2 linked regions of the Homo sapiens genome follow. The protein of the gene in region 1 interacts with the protein of each later gene in a pairwise test. Each region holds a gene or a part of one and is shown on either strand. Other genes may lie near its edges. The genes, in order: WASF3 and RASAL3.

The links.
Region 2: the proteins of WASF3 (region 1) and RASAL3 interact in binary tests that used the Homo sapiens proteins (3 or more experiments, as listed by UniProt).

Annotation. Positions count from the first base shown.
Region 1 is NC_000013.11:26,551,046-26,562,072, reverse strand, and holds the start of WASF3 (actin-binding protein WASF3), read right to left. Parts: upstream 4,391-11,027; 5' UTR 4,254-4,390; exon of another isoform or gene 3,908-4,253; intron 1-3,907. UniProt on the Homo sapiens protein: Downstream effector molecules involved in the transmission of signals from tyrosine kinase receptors and small GTPases to the actin cytoskeleton. Plays a role in the regulation of cell morphology and cytoskeletal organization.
Region 2 is NC_000019.10:15,452,013-15,462,990, reverse strand, and holds part of RASAL3 (RAS protein activator like-3), read left to right. Parts: intron 1-1,383; coding exon 1,384-1,520; intron 1,521-1,694; coding exon 1,695-1,773; intron 1,774-1,869; coding exon 1,870-1,931; intron 1,932-2,732; coding exon 2,733-2,788; intron 2,789-4,335; coding exon 4,336-4,462; intron 4,463-4,564; coding exon 4,565-4,663; intron 4,664-5,156; coding exon 5,157-5,699; intron 5,700-6,344; coding exon 6,345-6,489; intron 6,490-6,742; coding exon 6,743-6,887; coding exon of another isoform or gene 6,888-6,891; exon of another isoform or gene 6,892-7,082; coding exon of another isoform or gene 7,083-7,142; exon of another isoform or gene 7,143-7,353; intron 7,354-8,059; coding exon of another isoform or gene 8,060-8,097; coding exon 8,098-8,334; intron 8,335-8,428; coding exon 8,429-8,630; intron 8,631-8,723; coding exon 8,724-8,842; intron 8,843-9,493; coding exon 9,494-9,884; intron 9,885-10,175; coding exon 10,176-10,333; intron 10,334-10,740; coding exon of another isoform or gene 10,741-10,846; exon of another isoform or gene 10,847-10,882; coding exon 10,883-10,946; intron 10,947-10,978. UniProt on the Homo sapiens protein: Functions as a Ras GTPase-activating protein. Plays an important role in the expansion and functions of natural killer T (NKT) cells in the liver by negatively regulating RAS activity and the down-stream ERK signaling pathway.

The sequences.
Region 1 (11,027 bases):
CAAAACAAATGCTTATTGAGCAAAGAAAATGTTAAAAACGTAAGTACTTAATGTCCTAACAACTTGGTACCAACTTGAAAAAAGTACACTTTAATAGAGAGAAAAAATGGCATTTTTATTTCATTCTTAGATAACCACAAGTATTTACTAATACAGTATGTGTACACTTGTTGAGCACTGCACAATTTCTCTCAAACCTTGGAGTCAGACTGGACAATGGCCTCCCTCATTTCCTTTTCTACACTGATTTTCACGTGCTACAGCAACCACCAAAAATCCTTCTTTACAAACATGAGGTCATCGAATGGAATGGAGTGCAATCTAATCTAGACATTTTTAACTATCTTGAGCTAGTAGTTTCCACAGGCTTGAAGAGACGGAACTATGTGTTTTCCTCAACAATGTGAAACATCCCCCAGTCTCCCTGTTTGCTGTAGCACCTTAGCTGATAGTTTGGGAAACTCTCAAACTGTTTGAGACAGTCTGGGACAGCTAATAACTCTCACATGCGTCTCTCTAATCCAGACAACTCCTGATTATCTGGATCCCTAGTGCAGCCAACTGAACACACTGTCCCCTCAGCACCTGAAACTTAACCCAGCCAAGTGTGACCCATAATCTTTTCCCCAAAATGGATGCTGCTCTGTCCCCACCTAAGGACAGTGCCATCACCCAACCACCCAGCCAGAGCTGGACACTGCCCTGAACTCCTCCCTGCCCCAACTCCCCCCACCACATACACACACACGGCCAATGACCAAATCCCAGCAATTCTACCTCCTCAAATTTCCCTGCTTCAAGCCTTCCCTCTTCTAATCCATTCTCCAAAGGGCAAATTTGACCGTGTCCCTCTTTTGCTTACAATTCTTCAACCATTTCCTGTTGCCCACAGAGGTCTCCGAACTCCACACAACAGTAATCACAAGACCCCACAAGGCACAGTCCCTCCTTACTTCTCCTCCCTCACTTCTTGCCACTTCCCTGCCCTTGCCCACAACCACCCCCACTGGACTGAACTCCTGGTGTTTGTGGTTGCTCCAGTGCATCACCTCCCTGACCATCTCTCTGTACACCCTCTCCTCAACCCAGACTTCGACCAATTCCTTCTCATGGTGCTTCCTCTGGGAGGCTTTCCTGTCTCTCTGAACGTCCCTAAGCTTGGGTTTATGGTCCTCCTCTGAGCTCTTGTTGCTGGCCCCTTTCAGATCCCATATCAAACAATACATTGTAACCAACGGTTAAAACTCTTTGAGACTGAACTGCACAGCAAGCTCATCGGGGGCTGACAGAGGTATCTGTCTTGTTTATCTCTGTATCCCCGGCACATATTAAAACTCTGAAGTGTACTGAATGAATAAAGCAAATGAATGAATGGATTAGGTCATGCATGAGGCTCCTACATCCCTCACTGATTACTGACTCTATCATGGTACTTATCACACTGCACTGTAATTGCTTGTCCTGGTAGACTATGAACATCTTGAAAGCGTCTGTCTCTTATTTTTGCAACCCTAGTGATTAAAATAGTACCTGGTACCTAGTAGGCATTCATGAAATGGTTTTTTTAACATACAGGGTTATATATTTCATCTACAGTATTAAATGGAAAAAATCCAGAAGGATACACCCTATATTATGGTTACCTCTGAAGAAAGAAATAGGAATAGGACAACAATAAGACGGGAAAAAGAAAACTTAAGACTTTTTACCTCTATAAATCTCTGTGTTGATATTGTTTATTTTATAATGTACATCATTTATGTATTACTGGCATAAAATATTTCTGTATTACCAGCATAAAGTCAAGCCACAGGTAAAGAACCAGCCCTGAAGAAGAATGTGTGGGGCTGTCAGAAGCATTTAGTTCCACATGCCCAAGAGCAAAGCCAAAAAAAGCCTGACTTGAAAGAAACAGGGCCCTTAAAACGGACTGAGAAGAGAAGTTGAGAGATTCGGCCGGGAGCGGTGGCTCACGCCTGTAATCCCAGCATTTTGGGAGGCCGAGGTGGGCGGATCAACCTGAGGTCAGGAGTTCGAGACCAATCTGTCCAACATGGTGAAACTGCATCTCTACTAAAAGTACAAAAATTAGCCGGGCATGGTGGCGGGCGCCTGTACTCCCAGCTACTCGGGAGTCTGAGGCAGGAGAATCGCTTGAACCCAGGAGGCGGAGGTTGCAGTGAGCCGAGATCACACCACTGCACTCCAGTCTGGGAGACAAGAGCAAGACTCCGTCTCAAAAAAAAAAAAAAAAAAAAAAAAAAGAAAGAAAGAAAGAAAGAAAAGAAAAGAAAAAGAGATTCAAGGTCTACAGCAATGGAGAGCCACCCAAAGTGAAAAACAATCTGGGAGTACTCTTCAAAGAAAGTCCTTGGAATTCCAAAGACGATCACTAGTACTAGCCCGTGAGTAGGGACAATTCATTTAATACTTGCATTATAACGCAATTGTTTTAATCAAAACATCCCAATAACCAAAAGGTTACCTGCCATACATAGGTTTCTATGGGAACCGTAACGTGTGACTACAAAGACACACTGACAAGAGATAGGAGGTTACAATGTTGGCATGACCACTTAGCAAAGTGTGTTCCACCTTTGTTTTCGTAATTGTTGAAGATAGTGAAGCACATCATTGACTATTAGGTTGTAAATTTTAAAGCAAACAGATTTTTTAAAAACAAATGCTATTAAGCAACTTCATGTCAGCCAACTGGAAATGCAAGAACAATTTCTATATGTACATAGTTCTAGAATAAGCACAGGTTGGAAGGTAAATATAATAGTTGACCAAACTTTCCAATATTTAAACATGTGAAAAGACACAGCTTTTGTGAATACCAACTAAGAAAATCTTTCAAGATGAAGAAAAATGAGTACTACACTGAAGTCATTAGAACCCTGGGAGAAGGGAGCTGGAGAGGACACAATGAGAATGCCTTTGGGAAAGGTCAAACCCAGCTTTCGTTTGTTTAACCTCTCAAGCAGATAAAAGAACTAGCTTTAAAGAACCACTGCATTGTTTAACTGCTAGAAAAGGAGAGTTGGGTAAAGCACATATAAAAAGAAGCAATAGAATTTGCCCTAGAGACAATAGAAAGATTAGTCAATTACAATACTTTGAACTTAGTTTTGATAGAGTCGCATTTTAAGCTTTAGATAAACCTAATTTTTAAGATGCAAAATATTTCAAATAGCTATCCTCTCCCCCTTATAAAAAGTAGACTCTGAATCTTAAAATACCATGTTCTGCTATGCATTTAATTTGAAGAACTGCGAAAAGTAGTCTTTTTAATTTTCAGTTTTTGAAAACTCGAGACTGTTGCTGGAAGTAAACCGCTAATTTAAAAATTAACCTTAAAATGAGAAAGAATTCCTATGATGCTCCCATTGATCCCTAAGCCCATCACATAGTTTCTGAATAATTAAGAACTCTCGTCTCCACCAGGGAACTCTCCCTTGCAGAGGGGCCAAATCAAGAAGCAATCGCCATTGCACGTCAGCACCACAAACTGAGAGGAAGCTTCTGCCCTCGCTAAAGCCCAGGCGCGCGGGTAAAGACCCCCGGGGATGATACCCCGCGCGCCGCGGCTCCGTGCGCGCGGTCCCCCGCACTCGCGGGCCGCCCCACCTCCTCCCCTGCACTCCAAGAGTCCGGCCTGGTCTCCGAGGCCGGGAGCCACGCGGCACCGCAGCCTCGAGGGAGAGGACGCCCGCAACCAACACGCACGCGGGCACCAAGAGGGCACAGGCCAGGGCGGCGAGGGCCGAATGGGGCCGGGGGGCACGCGGAGCTGGACCAGAACCAGCGAGGGCGCGCAGACACTGAACGGATGCGAAGGTCCCGGACGCGGAGCGGCCCGGGGCGTCGTGCGTGGGGCGCGAGCGGAGGCCCGGGCGCCACTTACGGCGGGGAGGGCGGGTGGCTGTCCCGAGTCCAGGGAGCGCGCACCGGACGGCAAAGGGCCGGAGGCCCGGAGGCGCGGGAGAGAAGGGCCGCCTGGCCGCGCCGTGACGGCGAGAAGCCCCTGCCAGCGCGGGAGCCGGCCGGGAGAATGCGGCCGGGCTGCAGGGATAGGCGCGAGGCGGCGCCGCAGCCCGCAGTGGGCCCCGCCGCCCGGCCGGAGCGCGCGGCGATGCAGCAACTTCAGTTCGCCGTGGGGCCGCCCCTCCCCCGACAGCCGCCCGGCCCGGAGCCGAGAGGGCCACAGCAGCCTACAGCGGAGAGCCGGGGCGACCGCAGCCCTCACTCACCGGTCCGCGGTCCCGCCGCCGGCGCCGGGGCTGCGCTCTGAGCTCCATGGTCCCGCCGCGCCGCGGCCGCCCGGCGCACCCGCCTCGCACCACACCGCACGCAGCGGCGCGAGCGACGCCGCCTCCGGCCCGTCCACGGCCGCGGCCACGCCCCCTCCCGGCGGGGGGGCTCGGCCGGAGCAGGAGGGGGGCTCAGTGCCGGCTCCACCAACCAGGGCCAACTCACGGGGCCGCTTCACCAGGATTGGCGAGTGCCTCGGCCAATAGGGAGCCGGCGAGCGCGCTGAGCGACGGTGCCGAGGGGCGGGGGATTGCGGAGGCGGTGGCTCTCACCCTTGGTCCTCCGCCCCCAGCTCGGGATGAGGCTTAGGCAGCGTCCTTTCCAGCGAGGAGAGGTGGGGATACTTCGGGCCAAGAGACCCTTGTATCACCTCTGATTGCTAGGTGCCCATTACAGTACCTTTGAGTTTGCGCTTATATCCTAATCCTCCCTGGGTGTTGAGGGCTCCTGCACAGAGGTCCTCTACCTGTAAGGTGTCAGACGTCCTCCAGGGCTGAGGCTTCAGGCAACCCTGAGAGGACTGTAGCCCTGTTCATGGGTTGGTTTTATGCCCTGCTCAAATTCGTTAGCATTCTTAAAATCTTCCCATCTCCTTCAACACAGATTCTTCTGTTTTTATCACCCTATAACCAATCTCTCTCCACCCTAGATGTGAGGAAATCCACAATACTTATTAAAACTAAGATATCCCTGAAACTGCCAGCTAAGCCCTGCCACAGTGGAACATAGCCACGTGCGACCAGATGACTGAGGCATAAACAAACTTAAGAAAAAGAAAGGAGGAAAGGAAAGGAAGAGAAGAAAAGATAGAAAAGCCAAGATAGAAAAGCTAGGTCACAAAGGAAAGGGGTTTAAAAACATCTAATAGAAATGTTACCTTTATTTTAATTTGCATGCCTTTATTCTTTTTATTTACCAATAGGATCACTAAATTGAAAAACTTTTAGGAAAAAATTTTAAATTCTAATGAATAGTTCAAGAAACACTAATTCAAGTTGGTTTGCTCTTTTCTTTACAGATGTGTAATAATGATCAACATCTAGCTAGAGACAACTAAAAGTTGGAAAAAATGAATAGCAGTTAATAATTTCACCAAAGTTTGCAACACCAGAAATGCAGTAGAAAAATCATGCAGCCCTCTTCATAAAATGTCTAATCTATTAACCTGCATTACTTCCAAAGGAGGGATTTTAAAAGCTCTTTTTAAAGATGACGTATATTCAGTTTCCATAAAGTGCCATCATTTTAAAAAATTGCTGGTAATTAACAAGGTAAACAGGATTTTGGTGAATAATTACAGTGACCCAGTATTTTAAATATTGATACTAGAGTGACAAATGTCTGCTGAATTGAAAGCTAAATTGGCATTCAAATTAAAATGACTTTCCTTCATTTCATCTTCACTTACCCAGGGGAATGGCTTCCATGTCTATGTTTAGGTCATTAATTTAGAACTCAAAAATATGAAAGTATAGATACCCAGAGTGTTTTCAAGGTTGCTAATCATATTTCCCTGGCTGCTTCCCTCTTCGGTGACCCCAGCCTTATAAACCGCTGCTACACTTAGTTTGCACTCACTGTTAGCCCTTAAACACATCATCCCAAAGTGTTCAGGTTTGTTTCATATAGGTCAGTCTTACCTCTCTAATTAGATCATCAGTTCCATGAGGATAAGGCCCTTATTTTACAGTCCTCTTTCCTCCTTTTATAATGCCTAGTACAGTGCTGAGCATGTGGTAAATATGATTCTATTCCTAGTGTTGTGGTTCATGGTACAAATAAATTATTTCAAATATGGTCTTGTGTGAACCAGTCCTTTAAATAAAAACTGCTTAGAGCAGTCTTGTTAGAGGATTAGAGCCCACCGCTAATAAGTGCCTCATCCTTAATAAAATGTTGCTGCATCAGGGAGTGAATTGGTGACCTGTAACAGAATCTTGACTAAAAGTGCCTACTAAATAGGAGTGCTTCTTATCACAAAACCAGAAACCTGGAGACAGCCACAGGGCTTCTGTAATATCTCTTCTATGGTGTCGTTGTGTCTCAGGCTCTTTCTAGCCATTGTCTCTGCTATCCTTGTCATGTGATCTCTGTCTTCATCCTCACAGGATGCCTGCTTCCCTTGTAAGCATTGCATCACATTGAGGAAAATGGTAGGGGGATGGGTAAAGGGCAAAAGATCAAAGAGGTGCATGCCCAGTTGGGTCTGCATCTTCCTGGGAAGCTTTACCCAGCACCTTCTGCTTGCATTTTATTGGCCAGCCACATGTCACATGACCACCTTTAGCTGCAAAGGAGTCTGAAATGCTAAGTATTTAAAGTTGGGGCATTGGCTGGAGGAATATTAGAGTTTTGTTAGTAATGGAAAAGAGGAATGCAGACCTTGGGTATGAGAGTGGCAGTACCTGATGTAGTTGCTGAATAAATGAATTCATGATTGAGCCCTCACTCTATTTATTCATAAGACCCACTTTTTTAAAAAGGCCACTCAGGTGTCAATTAAAAAACAATCCAATTTTCAAGTGAGCAAAAGATCTAAACAGACACCTCCCTAAAGTGGAGTTGACAATACACAGATGGCAAATAAACATGCTCAATATCATGTGTCATTAAGGAATTGCAAATTAAAACAAAAATGAAATACTATGACATACCTACTAGGATGGCTAAAATAAAAAAGCTAACGGCAACAACAACAAAAAACCTAAGGATACCAAATACTGGCAAGGATACAAAACAACAGGAATGCCCATCCATTGCCGATGGGAATGCAAAATGGTACGACCACTTTGGAAGACAGTCTGGCAGTTTCTCACAAAGCTAAGCATAGTCTCACAATTCAGTCCAGCCATCACACTCCTAGGTATTTACCCAATTGTGCTGAAAACATGCCCACACAAAAACTTGTACCCGAATGTTTATTCATAATCACGAGACCCTGGAAGAATCAAAGATGTCCCTCACAAGGTGAATGAATAAACAAATTGCAGTACATCCATACAATTGAATGTTATTTCATGATAAAAAGAAATGAGCTATCAAGCCATACAAAGACATGGAGGAAACTTAAATGCATATAGCTAAATGAGAAAAGTCAGTCTGAGAAGGCTACAGACTGTATGATTCTAAGTATATTCATTCTGGAAAAGGCAGTAGGAACCATAGTTAACAGAATAAAAAGAAAGTTTCGTTTCTTAAAATTTTTTAAGCAAGGTCACCTTTGCTGTATTTATGGACCTTTATTGCAGTCACAAATTCTATTGTCCTTCAACTATTGGTAAATCTTTTTTAAAAGTTCTTTATCATTGTACCTTTTAAGAAGTTTTTGGGCTATGTGCAGTGGCTCACACCTGTAATCCCAGCACTTTCGGAGGCCAAGGCAGGAGACTTGCTTGAGGTCAGGAATTTGAGACCAGCCTGGGCAATATAGTGAGATTCCCATCTTTGCAAAAACTAAAAGAATTAGCCAAGAGTGGTGGCATATGCCTGTAGTCCCAGCCACTCAGAAGGAGGCTAAGGCAGGAGTGTCGCTTCAGCCTAGGAGTTGGAGGCTGCAGTGAGCTGTGCTCACACCATTGCAATCCAGCCTGTGTGACAGAGTAAGACTCTGTCAAAGAAAGAAAGAAAGAAAGAAAGAAAGAAAGAAAGAAAGAAAGAAAGAAGGAAGGAAGGAAGGAAGGAAGGAAGGAAGGAAGGAAGGAAGGAAGGAAGGAAGGAAAGAAAGAGAAAGAAGGAAGGAAGGGAAGGAAAGGAAAGGAAAAGAAAAGAAAAGAAAAAGTTTTGGGGAGGTTTTCCTGACTTTTTATATTAAAATTTTTCCAATGTAAAGAAAAATTGAAAGAATGGTAGAAGGAACACCCATATACCTTTATCCAATTACACAAGGCCACATTTGCTCCATCAGTCTCTCTCTCTGTCTCTCCATAATTTTTTTTTTTTTTTGAGATGGAGTCTCGCTCTGTCGCCCAGGCTGGAGTGCAGTGGCGTGATCTCGGCTCACTGCAAGCTCCGCCTCCTGGGTTCACACCATTCTCCTGCCTCAGCCTCCCAAGTAGCTGGGACTACAGGCGCCCGCCACCACAACTGGCTAATTTTTTGTATTTTTATTAGAGACGGCGTTTCACTGTGTTAGCCAGGATGGTCTCGATCTCCTGACCTCATGATCCGCCCGCCTCGGCCTCCCAAAGTGCTAGGATTACAGGCGTGAGCCACCGTGCCCGGCCTCTCCATTATTTTTTAGCTGAACCACTTGTAGACAAATTGCAAACACCAAGATACTCTACCTTAAATACTTCAGCATATATCTCCAAAATAAAAATGTCTGGATCATTCTAGTGTACAAGCAGAGCCGTGCATAGCCTATAAAATGGAACCGTGGAGACTCGATACCTGTAACTCCTCCAGACTCCGTTACTACCCCCTCCCAACTTTTTCTCTGTAAATATTTGACCAACCTGGTATACGATGCTGGTATTATACTGAAGTACAGTAAAATAAAATCTAGCAGCAGGGAAACTGGTGACAAGGTATTGTGGTCAAGAGAATACTGGTGATGCAAGTGACTGTCAGTGTTCTGTGAAATCCCGTGCATGCAGCGTGTAGTGAAGCCAGTCCGGGGCCCACAGGGCAGTGAGATGCAGCTGTCTAGCATTACGATAACTGAACAGCTCTCAAGCATATTCCTAATAAGAATATGCTTCACAACTATTTTTAAAACCTCTTGAATTGTGCCATCTTTGTTCTTTGCCTGGTCAAAATCTTGGATATATTTCTAAAGTCAAAATGTAGGCAGCTTAGGCATCCTCTTAATTTGAATCTGATAGTGATGACACAGTGACTTTCTCAAGACACTTAATAAATTAGGTATTCCCTCAGTGATTTGCTTAATTCTCTTTTGTCATCACTAAGTCTTTAGTGGAAAAACAATTGTCATTCTTTTTACTTAATAACATGTCATCTTACATAAAAATTACAAACTGCTTTGCATTAGGAACTGAGTTCAATCTCACTTTGCGGAAGAGAAAGAACAAAGAGTGGTTACTAATTAAAAGAATATAATTAGAATATGTAAGAAATCAAATTTTAAAAGCATAATAACTGTCATTTTTGACATGCTCATTTGTACTTGTTCTCAGAATGAAGTAAAATAATGACTACAAATACCTCAGTTCTCAAGAATTAATTTAGCTCCATATATAAATCTTTATAAACATACTTCACTTACCCGAGCTTTCTTCTGAAGGATAGTATTTATTTTCATCTTGACATAGAGTGAAATAAATACATACATATCCATATCTACGTCTCAAAGAATAAAATATTTGCTGGAAACATGGCTATATCTTAAATTTTAATATTAACCCAATTATCTCATCAGAGCAAGGCAGTATATTGATATTAACTTTATTTTGAGGTGAGGAAAATTATGAGAAGGTAAAAATAACAAACATTTGTTGAGAATGCTCTATGTGCAGTATGCTGTATTTGTTGTATTTAACCTTCATAACATCTATTGGATATGTGGTCTGTTGCCCATTTTATAGATAAGGCCCAGAGAAATTGTCTTTTTCCCCCAAGGTAACCCAGCCAAGACTCACTGATATTTTCACAGACAAGCTGTTTTTCCAATGAACATGGAGAGCCCTAGAAGTTGCTATTCTTGCTAAGTGAAACAGCAGAGTAATGTGTGCACAATATTCTGAGAAGCACATGGCCAATACTTCCCTCAAATCTATCCCTGCCTCTCCTTTCCCATTCCCACAACCCAAGCTGAGTTCACCACCATCCCTTTTTGTGCTGTGACAATATTTCTAACACATTTCCCTTGGTTTTTCCTTCACTGTGTCTTCACGCTATTTTATGAGCAATTTTTAAAATGTAGATCTGATAGCATCTCTATGCTGCTCAAAAACCGTCAGAGTCTCCCACTGTCTACAGGATAAGTCAAATAAAGCCCTTAAAAATAATCCAGCTACCAGATTTCCTGAAGCATCCTGCACCACTAGCATTCGCCCTACATGCCCTGGGCTTTCTGTCTGAATACCCCTCCTGCCCTTCCTCACCTGGGAAGCTCAACTTTCACAACGCAGCTCAAATTCACCTCTCTGGAGCCTTCCTGGGCACAGTTACCTACACCAGCCTCTGTACTCTCCTTGCACTCCTTCACATGGCTTTATTGCCACGGTTAATTCATTGTCCCCCACCAGACAGGGAATTATTTGAGGCCAGAGACTAGTTCTTATTCATTTTGAATCCCTAGTGCCTAACACTTACTAGGCATAGAGCTAATATTTGTTGAATGAGTTTTCATGATGTCATTGGAACTACTAATATCCAAGCAATCTAAATAGCACTTAAAGACAGAGGGCTCCAAGGCATCAGACTTAGATATTCCCATGGTGAGCATGCGGAGAACAGGCTTCCATCCCCCATGAAGCCACTGTATTAGTTCGTTCTCATGCTGCTATAAAGAACTACCTGAGACTCAGTAATTCATGAAGAAGAGAGGTTTAATTGACTCAGTTCTGCACGCTTAACAGGAAGCATGGCTGAGAGGCCTCAGGAAACTTAGAATCATGGCAGAAGGCAAAGGGGAAGCAAGCATGTCTTACCATGGCAGAGCAGTAGAGAGAGAAAGAAGGGAAAAGTGCCACACACTTTTAAACCATCAGATCTCATGAGAACACACTCACTATCATGAGAACAGCAAGGGA
Region 2 (10,978 bases), on another chromosome or scaffold:
ACACTAGCCTAGGGCCCAGCATTTTTTTTATTTTTTTTTTGAGATGGAGTCTCGCTCTGTTGCCCAGGCTGGAGTGCAGTGGCGCGATCTCGGCTCACCGCAAGCTCCGCCTCCTGGGTTCACGCCATTCTCCTGCCTCAGCCTCCTGAGCAGCTGGGACTACAGGAACCCGCCACCATGCCCAGCTAATTGTTGTATTTCTAGTAGAGACAGGGTTTCACTGTGTTAACCAGAATGGTCTCGATCTCCTGACCTCATGATCCGCCCGCCTCAGCCTCCCAAAGTGCTGGGATTACAGGCGTGAGCCACCGCGCCCGGCCCCAGGCCCAACATATTTTAAGTGATCCGTTAATAAGCGGGAGTTATCATTTATTGCTCCTGGTGGTAAAAACAAGGGAACAGACAGGCAATCTGGGAGGGCTAATTCAGCCCTCCTATTTCCTGGAAGCTCATTTAATTCTCACTGCTTATATTCCCATTTTGTTTTTGTTTTTGTTTTTGTTTTGAGACACAGTCTCACTTCCTTGCCCAGGCTGGAGTGCAGTGGCGGAATCTCAGCTCACTGCAACCTCTGCCTCCCAAGTTCAAGAGATTCTCCTGCCTCAGCCTCCTGAGTAACTGGGATTACAGGCATGTGCCACCACGCCTGGCTAATTTTGTATTTTTAGTAGAGACGGGGTTTCTCCATGTTGGTCAGGCTGGTTTTGAACTCCCAGCCTCAGATGATCCACCCGCCTAGGCCTCCCAAAGTGCTAGGATTACAGGTGTGAGCCACAGAGCCCAGGCACATCAGGCTATTTTTTAAAGACAGGGTCTTGTTATGTTGCCCAGGCTGGTCTCAAACTCCTGGTCTCAAGCAATCTGCCCCACCTCGGCCTCCCAAATGTTGGGATTACAGGCATGAGCCACCTTGCCCAGCCCCTGTCCTGTTTTTTAACCTCTTGGACCCACATAATGTCTTGGTTAAGAGAAGAATGCAAAAAAAACAAAAAAACAAAAAAAGAGAGAGAGAGAAGAATGCTTGTGACTGAAGCCCAGCCCAACCACTCACAAACTGTGTGACCCTGAGCAAGTCACTCAACCTCTCTGAGCCTGTTATCATAGCCCTTTGAATGGCTTTTGGAGGATTCAATGCAAGAAGGTGTGTGGAGTGGTATACAGGGTACTGGGCACATGGTAGGTGAGTTGTGTCTGCTACCCATGGTTAGTGGGGACAAGGCCCAGACAGCGATGAAAGCTTGCCCAAGGTCATACAGTCTGATACGGCTGCTGGGGTGGGGGGCACCTAGGAGGGAACCCACCATGAGCCTTCGGGAATGGAAAGGGTAGCCTGAGGGAGAGAAAACGTCTCTTAAGTCCCCCAGTGCCTCCTCTTCTTCCCAGAGCTGGAGCCGGAGCCAGAGCTGGAGCCCCCTACCCCACAGATCCCTGAGGCCCCCACACCCAACGTGCCTGTCTGGGACATTGGGGGCTTCACCCTGCTTGATGGGAAGCTGGTGCTGCTTGGAGGAGAGGAGGAGGTGAGAGGGGGCACCTGGGAAAGGGGAGGAGGGAAGAAAGAAAAAGGAGGAGGGCAGAACAGAGGCAGGGGCTGGAGGGAGGATAATGGGAAGGTGTCTGCCTCTCCCTCGGTCTGCCTGCCTGCCTGCCTGCCTGCCTCCCCTCTCTGACTACCCACTCCTGCGGGAGAACAGGGTCCTCGAAGGCCCCGGGTGGGAAGTGCTAGCTCCGAGGGCAGCATCCACGTGGCCATGGGGAACTTCAGGGATCCAGGTAAGCTTGAGGGGTGGAAAGGCCTGGGGCATTTGGGAGGCTCTAAAAGTGGGGCAGAATCCAACCCCCCAACCTGCCACCCATAACGACCCACAGATCGGATGCCTGGAAAAACAGAACCGGAGACTGCTGGTCCCAACCAGGTCCACAACGTTCGGGTAAGGCAGCCAGTGAAGGTGGGAGGTAGAGGGGAGAGCCAAGACTCTCGGACCCTCAAAGCTGAAAGGGCACTCTTGCTGGGTGATCTGGAGCAGGTTGCTGACCCTCTTTGGGCCTCAGAGTCCCAGTCTGTCAAATGAAGCTAATGAAATAACCTTTCTCTAGGGGTTGTTTATGGGAAGCCAATAGAGAGTGCAGGAGCCAGGCAGGGCAGTGCGCAGCTATAGTCCAAGCTACTCGGGAGGCTGAGCAGAGAGCACTGCTTGAGGCCAGGAGTTCAACACCAGCCTAAGCAACATGGGGAGACTTCATCTCTTAAATAAATAAATGAATAGTATAGGAGAATATATGATTGATGCTTTACAAATGGGAGTTTGGGCCAGGCACAGTGGTTCACACCTGTAATCCCAACATTTTGGGAGGCTGAAGCAGAAGGATTGCTTGAGACCAGGAGTTCAAGACCAGCCTGGGCAACATAGCAAGTCCCCAATTCTACATGGTAACATTCACCTGTAGTCCCAGCTGAGGCAAGAGGATCACTTGAGCCCAGAAATTTGAGGCTGCAGTGAGCCATGATCGCACCACTGTACTCCAGCCTGGGCGACAGCACGAGACCCTGTCTTAAAAAAACAAATGAACAAAGAATTAGGAGCTGCTGATTGCTCTTATTATTCCTGCTAATACAGCCTGAGCTTGGTGTTGGTCCTCCAAGACCAGTAGATCCTCTGGGATGTCTTGGGAGGGAAGGAGCTGAGGAAGGAGCACAGATTTCTGTCCAGCTGACATTCCCTTCCCCACAGGGGTTGCTCAAGAGGCTGAAAGAGAAGAAAAAGGCCAGGTTGGAGCCCCGGGATGGGTAAGGGTGTATGAGAGGCTGGAGGGGCTGGGGTTCAACACTGGCCCCTCCTCCTCCACCTCCTGCATATCATTCCAATCTACACCAAACACCCCCTGTGGCCTCTGTGTTCTGCCCCACATCAGTTGATGCTGGGGACATTGAATGATCTAGCACAGAGCCAGGGTGGGGGCAAAGTCTGACACAATAACTCTAAAATGGGAGCTAAGTCAATCAACTGGTCTGGGAGGGTTAGGGAAGGTACCCTTGAGCTGAGATCTGAAGGGTGGATGGAAGTTAACTAGGCCAACAGGGGGGTGGAAAAAGCATTCCAGGCAGAAGGAACAACAAGTGCAAAGGCCAAGAGGCCGAAAGAAGCAACTAAAACAAGGCCAAGAGGGCTGGGTGAAGTGGCTCCCAGCACTTTGGGAGGCCAAAGTGGGCAGACTGCTTGAGTCTAGGAGTTCGAGACCAGCCTGGGCAACATAGTGAGACCCCATTTCTACAAAAAATACAAAAATTAGCTAGGCATGGTGGCGGGCACCTGTAGTCCCACCTACTGGGGAGGCTGAGTGGGAGGATTGCTTGAGCCTGGGAAGTTGAGGCTGCAGTGCACAGAGATCATGCCACTGCACTCCAGCCTGGGCAACAGAGCAAGATTGTGTCTCAAAAATAAATAGGGCTGGGTGCGGTGGCTCACACCTGTAATCCCACAGTTTGGGAGGCAGAGGCAGGTGGAACATTTGAGGTCAGGAGTTCAAGACCAGCCTGGCCAACGTGGTGAAATCCCATCTCTACTTAAAATACAAAATTAGCCAGGCATGGTGGCGAATGCCTGTAATCCCAGTTACTCAGGAGGCTGAGGCAGAAGAATCGCTTAAACCTGGGAGGTGGACATTGCAGTGAGCCAAGATTGTGCCACTGCACTCCTGCCTGGGCAAAAGGGCAAGACTCCATCTCAATAAATAAATAAATAAATAAATAGGGCTGGGCACGGTGGCTCACACCTGTAATCCCACACTTTGGTGAGGCTGAGGCGGGTGGATCACTTGGGATCAGGAGTTCAAGACCAGCCTGGCCAACATGGTGAAACCCCACCTCTACTAAAAATATAAAAATTAGAAAATTAGCCAGGCATGGTGGTGGGCACCTGTGATCCCAGCTACTTGGGAGGCTGAGGAAGGAAAATCACTTGAACCTGGAAGGCAGAGGTTGCAGTGAGCTGAGATCCAGCCACCGCACTAAACAAGACTCTGTCTCAAATAAATAAATAAATAAATAAATAGGATAAAATAAAACAAGGCCAGGGAGGCTGGAGCTCAGAAAGTGATGGATTAGGTGGAGGGAGATGAGGTGACAACATCTGGACCCAGCTTGGTCATGTAGGTCACCAGGAGTTGAGTTTATCCTAAAAGCAAGGAGGTGCCATGGCGGGGGGTGGGGGGGGCACGGGGGAGAAACGGGATCCGAATTGGGTTGAAGTCCTTCCTGGCCTTCCTCTACCCTTCAGGCTATGGGGGATGGGGAAGAGGCAGGAATGACGGTGTGCTCACCCACCCCCTTCCCAGACCCCCCAGTGCTCTGGGCTCTAGGGAGTCGCTGGCCACACTCTCTGAACTGGACCTGGGTGCCGAGCGGGATGTGCGGATCTGGCCACTGCACCCCAGCCTCCTGGGGGAGCCCCACTGCTTTCAGGTAAGTGTAGACAGTCCACCTCGATTCCACCTCAGTCCCACCTCCCACCCTTTGGCTTCACCCTTGGCCTCGATCACACCGTTGGATTCTCCATCCCAACAGGTAACCTGGACGGGTGGAAGCCGCTGCTTCTCTTGTCGCTCGGCCGCTGAGAGAGACCGCTGGATCGAGGACCTTCGTCGCCAATTCCAGCCCACCCAGGTCATTGCCCTCAGAAAAGCGGGACACGGAGACCCCGCCCACAGGCCTGGCCCGCCCCTTCCACTCTACCCAAAGCCAGCTCGCTCCATAACCCGCGCCCCCAACACACCTGCCCCGCCTGCATCGTTGCAACGGCTCCAAGACTCCCCTTCCATCTATTACCAGCCCCGGGAATATCAGACCCGCCCCTTCTGTCCACTCCCGGCCCCATATGCACCCAAAGCCCTGCCTGCCAGGCAATCGCGAAGTCTTTACTCCAGTACTACTCTTGTATGCCCTGGAGCCCCCAACTCTCCCGGAGAGCCCAGAAAAGCTAGAAGACTTCCGCGTAACCGCCTCCGGACTCCCGTGGCTCCACTTCTTTCCCCAAAGGCCCAGCAATCTCCCTAGGGACCCGACGCAACAGGTTTGAGGCTCCACGCTTCACTTGCGGTGCCTTCTTTGGGGTGCCAACAAACCAAAACGCTTCCCCCCATCCCACTCCCATCTGCAGGACAACGTGGAGCGGGAAGAGACATGGCTGAGCGTGTGGGTGCACGAAGCGAAGGGGCTTCCCCGAGCAGCGGCGGGGGCACCCGGCGTGCGCGCCGAGCTGTGGCTGGATGGCGCGCTGCTGGCACGCACGGCGCCTCGGGCCGGCCCAGGCCAGCTCTTCTGGGCCGAGCGCTTCCACTTCGAGGCGCTGCCACCGGCACGTCGCCTGTCGCTGCGGCTGCGCGGCTTGGGCCCGGGAAGCGCGGTGCTGGGCCGCGTGGCCCTGGCGCTGGAGGAGCTGGACGCCCCACGCGCGCCTGCCGCCGGTCTGGAGCGCTGGTTCCCGCTGCTCGGGGCGCCGGCGGGCGCAGCGCTGCGGGCGCGGATTCGGGCGCGTCGCCTGCGCGTGCTGCCGTCCGAGCGCTACAAGGAGCTGGCGGAGTTCCTCACCTTCCACTATGCGCGCCTCTGCGGGGCCCTGGAGCCCGCGCTGCCTGCGCAGGCCAAGGAGGAGCTGGCGGCAGCCATGGTGCGCGTGCTGCGGGCCACCGGCCGGGCGCAGGTGCGGCACCGCGACAGCGCGGACCGGGGCTACCAGGGGTAGACCGATAACGCGCTTCGGGCAGGAGTTGGGGCGCAGGACCTGAGTTGCACCTGTAATGGGGGAGACACCTTGAAGGGGTGTGAGGGGCGTGGTCCAAGTGTCACCTGTAAGCGGCGGGGCACCTAGAAGGGCGGGGCACCTAGAAGGGCGGGGCCTGAACATCACCCGTAAGGGGCGGGGCACCTTGAAGGGCGGGACCTGAGCGTCAGCTGTGAGGGGCTGGGGCTGAGCTGCACCTGTAAGGGGCGGGGCACCTTGAAGGACTGGGCCTGAGCTTCAGCTGTGAGGGGCGGGGCCTAATTATCACCCATAAGGGGCGGGACACCTTGAAGAGCGGAGCCTAAGCTTCAGCTGCGACAGGGGCCTGAGCATCACGCGTGAGGGGCGGGGCCCAGGTTGCACCTCAGCGCTGAAAGGCTTAAATTTCTGCTGTGAGGGTTAGAGGTTCCGGCCTCGGTTATGAGCCCCAGCAGTAAGGACTGGGCCTAAGCATCAGCTACAAGGGGCGGGGCCTGTGCCTCTGGTGTGAGGGACCAGCCAAGGATCCGAATTCCCTTGGACTCTGTCTGCATCTGGTGCAACCTGACCTCCTGCCCTTCCTAGGCGCTGGTGACTGACCTGGGCACTGCGGAGCTGGCGCGCTGTGGAGGCCGTGAGGCGCTGCTGTTCCGGGAAAACACATTGGCCACCAAGGCTATCGATGAGTACATGAAGCTCGTGGCACAGGATTACCTCCAGGAGACCCTGGGTGAGCTGGGGGAGAGTCCATGTCAGCGGCCTGCTGGTGAGCTAGGGGACCTGGGTGAAGTTCTAAGAGTCCTTGAGCAACCTGGATTCTGGTAGTGAGTGGTGTTTTGGGGGTGCTAGGATCCTGGGGACAATTGGGAGCTCCCCAAGATGTTGGGTGCCTCCGGAATAACCTGAAGACAAGGTTGGAGGATGGGTGTGGCAGGTTTTGGTGGTCATGGCCCCAGCCCCTATCTGGCTGTGCTGGGCTGCAGGACAGGTTGTGCGGCGTCTCTGTGCTTCTACTGAGGACTGTGAAGTGGACCCCAGCAAATGTCCAGCCTCGGAGCTGCCAGAGCACCAGGCCAGACTTCGGAACAGCTGCGAGGAGGTCTTCGAAACCATTATCCATTCCTACGAGTGAGAATCAGGGCCCCAGCAGCTTAGCCCACCCCTGCTTACCATGCTAGCCCCGACCTCCAGTTTAGGGTGGCCAGATAAAATACAGGAGACACTCAGTTAAATTTGATGCAATAATTGGGACCATGCTTATACTAAAAAATTACTCATTTGAACCAGGCATGGTGACTCACGCCCGTAATCCCAATGCTTTAGGAGGCCGAGACAAGAGGATTGCTTGAGCCCAGGAGTTCAAGGCCAGTCTGGGCAACATAGCAAGACTCCATCTCTCCAAAAAGCTTTTTAAAAATGAGCTAGGCATGGTGGCACACACCTGTATTCCCAGCCGAGGCTGGAGGATCGCTTGAGCGCAGGATTCAAGGCTGCAGTGAGCTATGATCATGCCACAGCACCCCAGCCTGGTTGACAGAGACCCTGTCCCAAATAAAAGTAAAAATATAAATAAAAATCACTCCGTTATCTGAAATTCATGTTTAACTGGATGTCCTGAAGTTTCGTTTGCTGCATCTGGCAACCCTATCACCATGCAACCCTATCACCACTGACCCCAAGTAACCTGAGACCCAATTCCTTGTCCTGTAACCACAGTTGATTCCATATCCCCAATTTCATGCCACTGGCTCCAGTTAACATAGGACCTCAATCCTATGACCAGATGATGCCCCAAGTCCATGATCCCTGGCTTTAAGTGACCCTCCACCTCAAATCCCATGCAACTGATCACAGGAGACCTGGGATTCCAATCCCTTGACCTCTGACCCTAGGTTAACCTGCATACCTAATCCCTGACTTCAATCAAGTGACTTCTGACCCTAGGTGACCTCCAGAGCCCCAATCCTACTTTATATCTTGTACTCTGGCCCACCAGTCTCATGTCTAATTATAAGTACATCCAAGCTCATAACCTCTGTCTTCATGTGACCCTGTATCCCCAACTATAAGAGTATTATCCCCAGCGATTGCCATAGCTACACCATAAGCCATGGCCCCATGCTGATTCATAACCCCAAGCATTGTTATCTCAGATATTCCCAATCCTAGAGCCCAGACCCCAGGTTCAGTGAGAAGGAAGCCTGCATGGGCTTCATGAATAGCTCTCTGGAGGATCATGGACCAATCATGCAGTGCTTCTGGGACTCCCAACCTTATGACTTTAACCTTTATGCCCATAGCCTCCCCGTCTGACCATTCATTGCCTCTTCTGCACCAGCTGGTTCCCTGCGGAGCTGGGCATCGTGTTCTCAAGCTGGCGAGAAGCATGTAAAGAACGTGGCTCTGAGGTGCTGGGCCCCCGACTGGTGTGCGCCTCCCTCTTCCTGCGGCTCCTGTGCCCTGCCATCCTGGCACCCAGCCTCTTTGGTTTGGCACCAGACCATCCAGCACCCGGCCCAGCCCGCACCCTCACACTGATTGCCAAGGTCATCCAGAACCTCGCCAACCGTGCCCCGTAGGTGCTGGGAAGCTAGGGGTGGGGGGACCATGCTGGGAGTGTGGGGGTGGCAGGTGCCTGACCTGACCCACCCAGCCTGGCCCTGATCCAGGTTCGGTGAGAAGGAGGCCTACATGGGCTTCATGAATAGCTTCCTGGAGGAACATGGACCAGCCATGCAATGCTTCCTGGACCAGGTAGCCATGGTGGATGTGGATGCTGCCCCCAGTGGTTACCAGGGCAGTGGTGATCTGGCCCTCCAGTTAGCTGTCCTGCATGCCCAGCTCTGTACAATTTTTGCTGAGCTTGACCAGGTATGGCCTGAACCCAGAGTAGGGAGGCAAGAAGGCTTGGGAGACTCTGACCCTGGAGACTTTGCTCAGTCTCTGTCCTGCATGCCTCACCAGACAACCCGAGACACCCTGGAACCACTGCCCACCATCCTGCGAGCCATTGAGGAGGGCCAGCCTGTGCTTGTGTCAGTGCCAATGCGTCTCCCACTGCCCCCGGCCCAGGTCCACTCCAGGTAACCTCAAGTCTGGTCTGGGGTCTGATGGGTGGGAACAGGAAGGAGCAGGGCTCAGACAGGGGTCAGAGGTGAAGTTGGATCATTGTGAGCAGAGGTCAAGCCCAGGGTCAGACGGGAATCACAGGTTATAGAAAGGGTTGGGTCAAAGGTCACAGTGTGTTTGAGGTCGGGGATGAGAGGAGAGGTTAGGGTGGAGAGATGTCAAGGGTCATAGAGAGGACAGTATTATAGTCAGAAGTCAAGGACAGGAGCCAGGCTCAGTGGCTCATGCCTGTAATCCCAGCACTTTGGGAGGCTGAGGCAGGAGGATCACTTGAGGCCAGGAACTTAAGACAAGCCTGGGCAACATAGGGAGACCCCATCTCTACCAAAAAAAAAAAAAATTACCTGGGTATAGTGGCATGTGCTGGTAGTCCTAGATATTTGGGAGGCTGAGGCTGGGGAATAGCTTGAGCTCCAGAATTCAAGGCTGCAGTGAGCTATGATCTAGCCACTGCACTCCAGCCTGGGCGACAGAGCAAGACCTTGTCTCAAAAAAAAAAAAGAAAGGACAAGTTCACGTGGGGGGTGAGGTCACTTCTGGTCAGGTCGGGATGGGGTCGTCTCAGGGGCCAGTGGAGGGTCTAAGATCCTCCATCCCACCCCTAGCCTCTCCGCAGGGGAGAAGCCCGGCTTCCTGGCCCCCCGGGACCTCCCCAAGCACACCCCTCTCATCTCCAAGAGCCAGTCTCTGCGCAGCGTTCGCCGCTCAGAGAGTTGGGCCCGGCCACGGCCGGACGAAGAGCGGCCCCTGCGGCGGCCCCGGCCGGTGCAGCGCACGCAGAGTGTCCCGGTCCGGCGTCCTGCCCGCCGCCGCCAATCTGCGGGGCCCTGGCCGCGACCCAAAGGCTCCCTGAGCATGGGACCAGCGCCCCGCGCCCGGCCTTGGACCCGGGACTCCGCCTCGCTGCCTCGGAAGCCGTCGGTACCCTGGCAGCGCCAAATGGACCAGCCGCAAGACCGAAACCAGGCACTGGGCACGCACCGACCTGTGAACAAGGTAAGGTCAGGCCCAGGTCCGCGCCTGGGGAGTGGGAACAGGGACGCGACTGGGGAAGACTGAAGGGCCAGGCAAGTCTGGGTTCAAGTACCCAGCTCGCTGTGCTGTGTGACCCCAGGCCTAGCCCGACCCTCTCTGAGCTTCAGTCTCCCCAGCTGTACCGCAGGAGGGATGTTCCCCAACTAGGCAGGCCGGTGATGACGCTGAGCGCTTGGGCCTGGGAGGTCAGGGTCTCCGGGGAGACACAGGGGCGGGACAACGGGTCAGATTACAGCTGCTCTCCCACCACAGTTGGCAGAGCTGCAGTGCGAGGTGGCCGCTCTGCGTGAGGAGCAGAAAGTGCTGTCCCGCCTCGTGGAGTCGCTGAGCACCCAAATCCGGGCCTTGACGGAGCAGCAGGAGCAGCTGCGGGGCCAGCTGCAGGATCTGGACTCCAGGCTCCGTGCTGGGTGAGCCCAGCCCTCTCCATTAGCTCCGCCCCCAGGTGGGCCCGATCCAATTAGATCTGACCAGGCCCTCCCCCCCCCCCCCAAACCACGCCTAGCACGGCCAAGCCCCACCCTGGCCCCGCCCCAATAAGTCTGTCCAGGCCCTGCCTCTTGGCAAGCCCCGCCCCCAGGTGGACCCACCCAACGAAGGTCGGCCTAGGACCCTGGCAGATTCTCTCATCCAGGCCCCACCCCTCCATCAGCCCCTCCCAACCTGGCTGGGCCGGGCACTGAGATATCTCAGCCTGGGCACTCCCTCCAGCTCAGTCACGACCCCACCCAGGACTGGCCAAACCCCACCTCCAAGGGATGATTGATAGGTCCTGTCATTCCAACCATTCCCGTCTCTGGTCCGACCCTTCTTCAAGCATATTTAGGCCCCGCCCCTCAGTCTGGACAAGCTCCGCCTCCACTCCAAGCTCCGCCCCCGGAGTCCCTGGCACTCCCACCAGGAGCTGGAAGGGACTTCCTTAGCCTCTGCCCTTCGCCCCAATCCCCCGACCCCCACAGGAGCTCAGAGTTTGATTCAGAGCACAACCTAACAAGCAATGAAGGGCACAGTCTGAAAAACCTGGTGAGATTGCCATCTGAGCCCTGGGGCAGGTC